2 separate regions of the Homo sapiens genome follow, and region 2 is linked to region 1. The links come from fine-mapping of genetic effects on gene expression. A gene starts in region 1. The other region holds a variant in brackets. All regions are shown on one strand. Distances are from middle to middle.

Region 1 (2,761 bases):
TATATTTTCAAAAAGCTAAGAGGATTTTGAATGTTCACAACACAAAGTAATGATAAATGTTTGAGGTGATGGATATGCTGAATATCCTTTGATCATAACACATTGTTCATATTTATTGAAATATCACTGTATATTCCATAAATATTTACAATTGTGTGTCAAATGAAAATAAAAGGAAAATTAAAAAAAATAAAAATAAACACCGAAAAAAATCACTACTAAGATCTGAGTCTTTCGGAGAGCTGAATTCAAAGCTGAAAAAAGGAAGAAGAAGGAATACATAGTCCTAGGACATTTTCTATTGCAGCCTCTGGGAACGCCTTTAGACATCCTTCAGCAGGTTTCTTTGCTTTCACTCTCTAGGGGCTACTTCTTTCTCATGAAAACTGTGACGTTGCTTCTGAAAACTCAGTGCCTGTCTGTCCTTTTTGCGTGCATTTCCTAGAAGATCCCACTAAAGGGGCATTTTGTCCCACCGTCTGTGAGCTGGTGGTGCCGCTTTGGCTCTGTGGCCTGTAGCTTGCAAAAGGAGATGACCTGCCCTAAAATGTCACTCGCGCCCATCAAAGCCACAGTCACCGGCTGCCGTAGCTGCAAGCTTTTTTCTGAAATCCAGGTACGCTAATCTAAAGTCAGACATCACAGCTCTAGAGAAGCTGGCTAAGAAAGTGAAGAGGGGCTCACTTTCAGCCTCCGCGAGGACACACCTCCGCAGCCGCCGCAGCTCCCCTGGCCCCCGCAGGGAGATTCGCCCGGGCACCGTGGCGCGGGCCTGCGGAGCGGTTTCCGCGGAGAACCCGTGCCAGGGCGCATCTGTGGGTCGTGGAGTCGGGCGCTTCCTTCTATAATAAGCCTCCTCAGGAAGGTTAAAATGAAGCAATTGTCAAAACGCCAAGGGAAAGCAAAGCTTCAGAGTATCCTGCATAATAAGCATGTCCTCCTTACAAGAGGCAGCCAGAAGGTGTGGTCTGGCCACTTACCTAGCGCTCTCTCAGCACAGGTCCCAGGCAGTGCTCAAGTCCAAAGTCAGAAGCGCCCCTCACAGTCCCTAGGAGAAAGCCGCTGACGCCATCATCAGTAGGGGATTTGCATTTCTCCTCCCACTTGAGGCTTTCCTGTGCGTCAGTGTTCGAGTCTCTGGGACTTTACTTGGGTCAGTTCCCACCCACTCTATTCTAGAAATGCTAACACGCAGAAACTGCCAGGCTGGAGCCCCTTCACCGGGCGTCCTCTTCCCTCTTATCCCTCCCAGCGGCTCTCGCAACTGCAGGTGGCTCAGCAGTGCCAGGAAAAAGGGGAGGGGCGGGGCATACATTTTCTTCAGTGGTTTCCTTAGACAATCTGAGATCCTCTGCAGAGTTACTTACCTGGAGCCCAGTTCTTCAGCTTCCTCTCTCCCTAGTATAAGGCTCCACTCAGCCTGGTGAACCACCCCTGGGATGGAAGGGATGGGTAGCCAGGATCAAAACACCAAACTCATAGACCTTACTGGGCTCCAATTCCAGCGGGGTCCGCTCACTCCGACGAGGGTGACCTGACCCAGAGGGTTGGGCCAAGTCCTGGGTAGGCCACCAGTGCTTGCCCTTCCTGACCTAGCCTCCTCCTACTCTCCTTGAGTAGCCTTGCCCCTGGTTGCTACGGTGCGTTCTTCTCCCTTTGTGACATCAGCCTGTTCTAGAATCACAGAGTTGGAGGAAGTCTTGGTCCCATCTAATGCTAAATCCTCTTTCATATCTGAAGAGACCCAGTGAGGTGACCAAGAGGACTCAATAAGTTAGCCACGGAGCCCGATAATAGCCCAGGTGTTTCCCTTCCCACTTCAGTGGTCTTTTCATTTCATCTCCTTGTAGTTAGCTCTTAACCCCTTGATTCACAGTAGGGGTTCAATAAAATAAAGAGAAGTCCAGGCGTGTGGCTCACACCTGTAATCCTAGCACTTTGGGAGGCTGAAGTGGAAGGACTCCTTGAGCCCAGGAGTTTGAGACCAGCCCAGGCAACACAGTAAAATCCCACCGTATATTAAAAAATCAATAAAAATGTTTAAGAAAGTAAAAATAGTAAAACAAAGACAAAAATAAAGACAGACAGACAGACTGAAAGAAAGGTAGAAAGTGTCACTCAATTTGGTTATACACATGCTTAGAGCAATATACCAAGGTGAAAGGCCTGCCTCCCTCTTCCCTGACGGGTTTCACACAGGTACACCCTCTGGATTCTTCTCTCCCAGGTGACATTATCATGTGCTTAAACTTACCACCCACCCCCAAATAGGTCAATCAATCCAAAGTCACACTTTCCATATCACTGTAAATTTCCTGGTTAGGTAGGCCTGGTCCCCACTGCTTGTTGAGCAGGCAGTTTCCAGGAGCTTATGCTGCTCTGACCCTACATAAGAAAGTGCCAATTTCAGGCTATTCCATAAGCTACTAAGCAAAGTCTGATTTTCTTCTGGAGAAGCTGTCACTGCCTATAGGAAAAAAATCCAAATTCTTGGCAGTTTAAGTTCTGTACAGTTTGGTCCCAACCTATCCAGGAAACTTTTCTCCCCTATAAGAGCCCATGATGTGACCCAAGCAGTCACCTCAGCTGCCCAGATTAACCTCATATTTCACTACCGAGGCTTTCTTCAACTGGATATTCCTCCCTGAGCCTACCTACTTAGTGAAATCCTATAGTTCTCAGTGAAGACTTCCCGATGACCTGAACCCACAGCAATGTTTCCCTGCTCCAAATTCTTCATACTTCCTGTCCAAACCAGCGC
Region 2 (3,023 bases), 93 kb after region 1:
GTACACTGGCGTGATCTTGGCTCACTGCAACCTCCACCTCCTGGGTTCAAGTGATTCTTCTGCCTCAGCCTCCTGAGTAGCTGGGACTACAGGAGCGTGCCACCACGCCTGGCTAATTTTTGTATTTTTAGTAGAGATGGGATTTCACCATATTGGCCAGGCTGGTCTCGAACTCCTGACGTCATGATCCGCCTGCCACAGCCTCCCAAAGTGCTGGGATTACAGGTGTGAGCCACTGCGCCCAGCCTATTATCTATTCTTGACAATTGTGGGAATAACTTTAATCTGCTTTTTATAATTTCAAAAGTTGTTGATTGATTGGTTTTTGAAAAAAATGGCCAGGAAGGTAAAAGTGTTTTAAAACCTGTATGTCCTCAGAAACTTGGGTTTTGAGATTTATGAAAACTAGGTAAACAGTATTTTTAAAAGAGAAGCATGATTTTTCTCTAGAAATATTTTTGGCTAATAACTTGGTTCATTTTCTTAGTGTTTATTAGGATAAGTTCTACAGTTTCTATTATTTTCTTTTTTGAACTTGCTAAAATCATGGAGAAAGTCTTAATTGTCCTCACTATGCGAGGTCCTTCTAGAGGCCGAACTGTTCTGACATAACTGTGTCCTATCCCTTTCTTGAGTCAGGAGTTTCAAAACTTTACTTCTAGTAGCTAGCTATTTTGATAGACCTACTCAGCACATAGTTGTCTCAAACCTACTTTTTCTAAAATCTGGCCACCTTCCAAGATCAAAAGTTTATAGAATTCCCCCACTCTTCAATTTGTATACATCTTATATTCATGAACCTGCCATCTGCATTTCTGCTATTTTTGAAAAGCTGAACTGGACAGTAGAGGTCAGAAGTTCCATGAACTGCCAAACTGCTATAAGCAGTCACTTGGGAACCTAAACTCAGACAAGCAAAATGGAGAAGTGAGTCTAACACACGTCACCAGGTAGCAGGTTCATATGTTGCCTATTGTGAAGGCTGGGATCTCCAGGGTTTTCATTATGCTAGGTTATCAAGGTCTGAGGTAGTGTGCTTGATAGTGAAGACTATAGAGTCAGACTATCTGGGTTCAAATTCCAGCTCTGTCACTGTTCTAGGTGTCTATTGCTATGTAACAACCACCCAGATGACAATCTTTTATTATTATCACTTACGTTTCCGGGGCCTGATTTGGCTCAGCTAGGTTTTCTCTCTAGGTCTCTCAGGCAGCGTGGTCAGTGACTGTGGCTGGAGTTCTTTCAAAAGCTCGCCAACTCACATGCTTGATATAAGTTGTACTGGCAGTAGACCAGGTCCTCAGCTGGCACCATCAGCCCAAACACCTACACATGGCCTTCCCTGTGGCTTGAGCTTCCTCACAATATGGCAGCTGGGTTCCAAGGGTGAGTGTCCCAAGGGAGAGCCAGGTGAAAACTT[C/T]ATCTCCTTTTATGACCTAGGTTTGGAAGTCACATAGCATCACATCTGCTGTATTCTATTTGTTACAATCAAATCACTAAGTCCAGACCATATTCAAAAGGAGGGCAATTAATATCCACTCTCTAATGGGAGTCTTCAAACCACCATAGCCATGTATTCCCTGAAGACCTCTCTGTCCTTGGCTTTGCTGGTCTGTAAAACAAGGATAATGAGAGAAACTTACCTCAGAGCTTTTTGTGAGGATTAAACAAAGAACAGTCCCTGGTACCCAGTATGTGTTAGTTTCGCCCATTATCACACCACTTGTACATCTGAAGTGATGCTGATGGTGACATCAATGATGAGACAGTTCCCAGCAGATATAGTCTGTGAAGGTCCCACCTTTCCAAACTCTACTAGTGGCATTTAACAAATCCCAGCGCCTGTGGTTCTTATGCCAGTGGGAACAGTTACTATATATGGTCTGAATTCTTTGGTTCACCTCACTTTAGTGACAGTTTCCAGATACAGGTCAGTCCATTTAAACCTGGCCCATTTATGGCAATTTATTTCATTATAGGATAAAGTAGTTAGAACCATGAGTAATAATTACTGTGTCTACAGTGCTTTTAACACCTCAGCCAAGTAATCCTCATCTCACCCAGTGAGTAAGTTTGAATGCGCACCCTTCCCTGTGCGAGGATGAAGAAACCAGGACCTGGGTCAAGAGGATTGTTCTAAATTCTCCAATGAGGCAATAGGGCTTGAGTGAGAAGGTGTGTGTGTGTGTGTAGGGGGGGTGTCCTGATTCTCTGGCCCCTACATGCCTGTATAATATACCCCATCACTGATCATTACTCAGGACCTGTTAATACACTCTATTCAAATACGTATGGGTATTTGAAATTTCTTTTAAACTACCTCTCATGTATTTATAACACAAAGAATTGGCCAGTGTCTATTTCCCACAATGTGAGATTAAGTAATTTAAAAGATACTAAAAGTCTTGTAAATGAAGACACACCACACCACTCAGTATAATTTTTTTCTTTTTCTGTGAAACTAATATTTTCTGATATTCTCGGCATCCAAAAATTTTCATCTTGGGGAGGAGGAAAAATTGAGACTTACTCCCACTGTTTGCCGGAATGTGACCCCAGGCTGGCTTCGAGTTGTCAAATGTTGTATTTCTCATTTTATGTCAGTGAGTCTGGAAGCAAAAAAGGTAGAAAGACTGCCTTCCGTGGGGGCCGCGACGATCGCCCCTCCTTCCCTCAAGCCTCGTCCCATCCAGGCTCGCCCCGGGTGCGGAGGGTCGGGCCGCAAACCCGCAAGGCGCGGAGGCCGCCGCGACGCTCACCGGGGGGCGCTGTGAAGCCGGCACCGGGCGGACAGAGGTGAGTCGGCTCGGAGGCGGTGGCTCCCGTTCCTGCCCGCGCGCCGAGGGGCGAATCCCAGGCAGCGAGGTCGCCGCCCCCGCCCCTCGGCCGGCCCCTCCGCCAGCGGGCGAGAGGGGAGTGGCCGGGCTCCTCCCGCCGCCGCTGAGCACTCCGCAGCTGGGTGCGCACGGGAGCCTCAACCGCGGCGCGTGGAGGCAGTACCAGAGCGCGCGGCGCGCAGTCGG

Direction of the effects. Alleles are on the strand shown, and positions count from the first base shown. SD is a standard deviation of normalised expression in the study named.
In carriers of allele T in region 2, the expression in subcutaneous fat of the gene that starts at base 1,028 in region 1 tends to be lower than with C alone (moderate effect, 0.46 SD a copy in GTEx).

The links.
Region 2: its variant is fine-mapped to the expression of STAT4 in subcutaneous fat (GTEx, PIP above 0.99). The same link has a PIP of 0.9 or more in breast and sigmoid colon.

What each region holds. Positions count from the first base shown.
Region 1 is chr2:191,149,967-191,152,727 of GRCh38, forward strand. It overlaps STAT4 (signal transducer and activator of transcription 4), which reads right to left and starts at 1,028. Exons shown (of 24, transcript NM_003151.4): 1 at 981-1,028. RefSeq lists a silencer at 668-717 and enhancers at 1,188-1,237, 1,368-1,447.
Region 2 is chr2:191,242,462-191,245,484 of GRCh38, forward strand. MYO1B-AS1 (MYO1B antisense RNA 1) reads right to left here. Exons shown (of 4, transcript NR_186085.1): 2 at 1,159-1,612. MYO1B (myosin IB) reads left to right here and starts at 2,943. Exons shown (of 31, transcript NM_001130158.3): 1 at 2,943-3,023. RefSeq lists an enhancer at 2,829-3,023 and a silencer at 2,864-3,023. The variant C/T (reference allele first, on the strand shown) is at 1,421.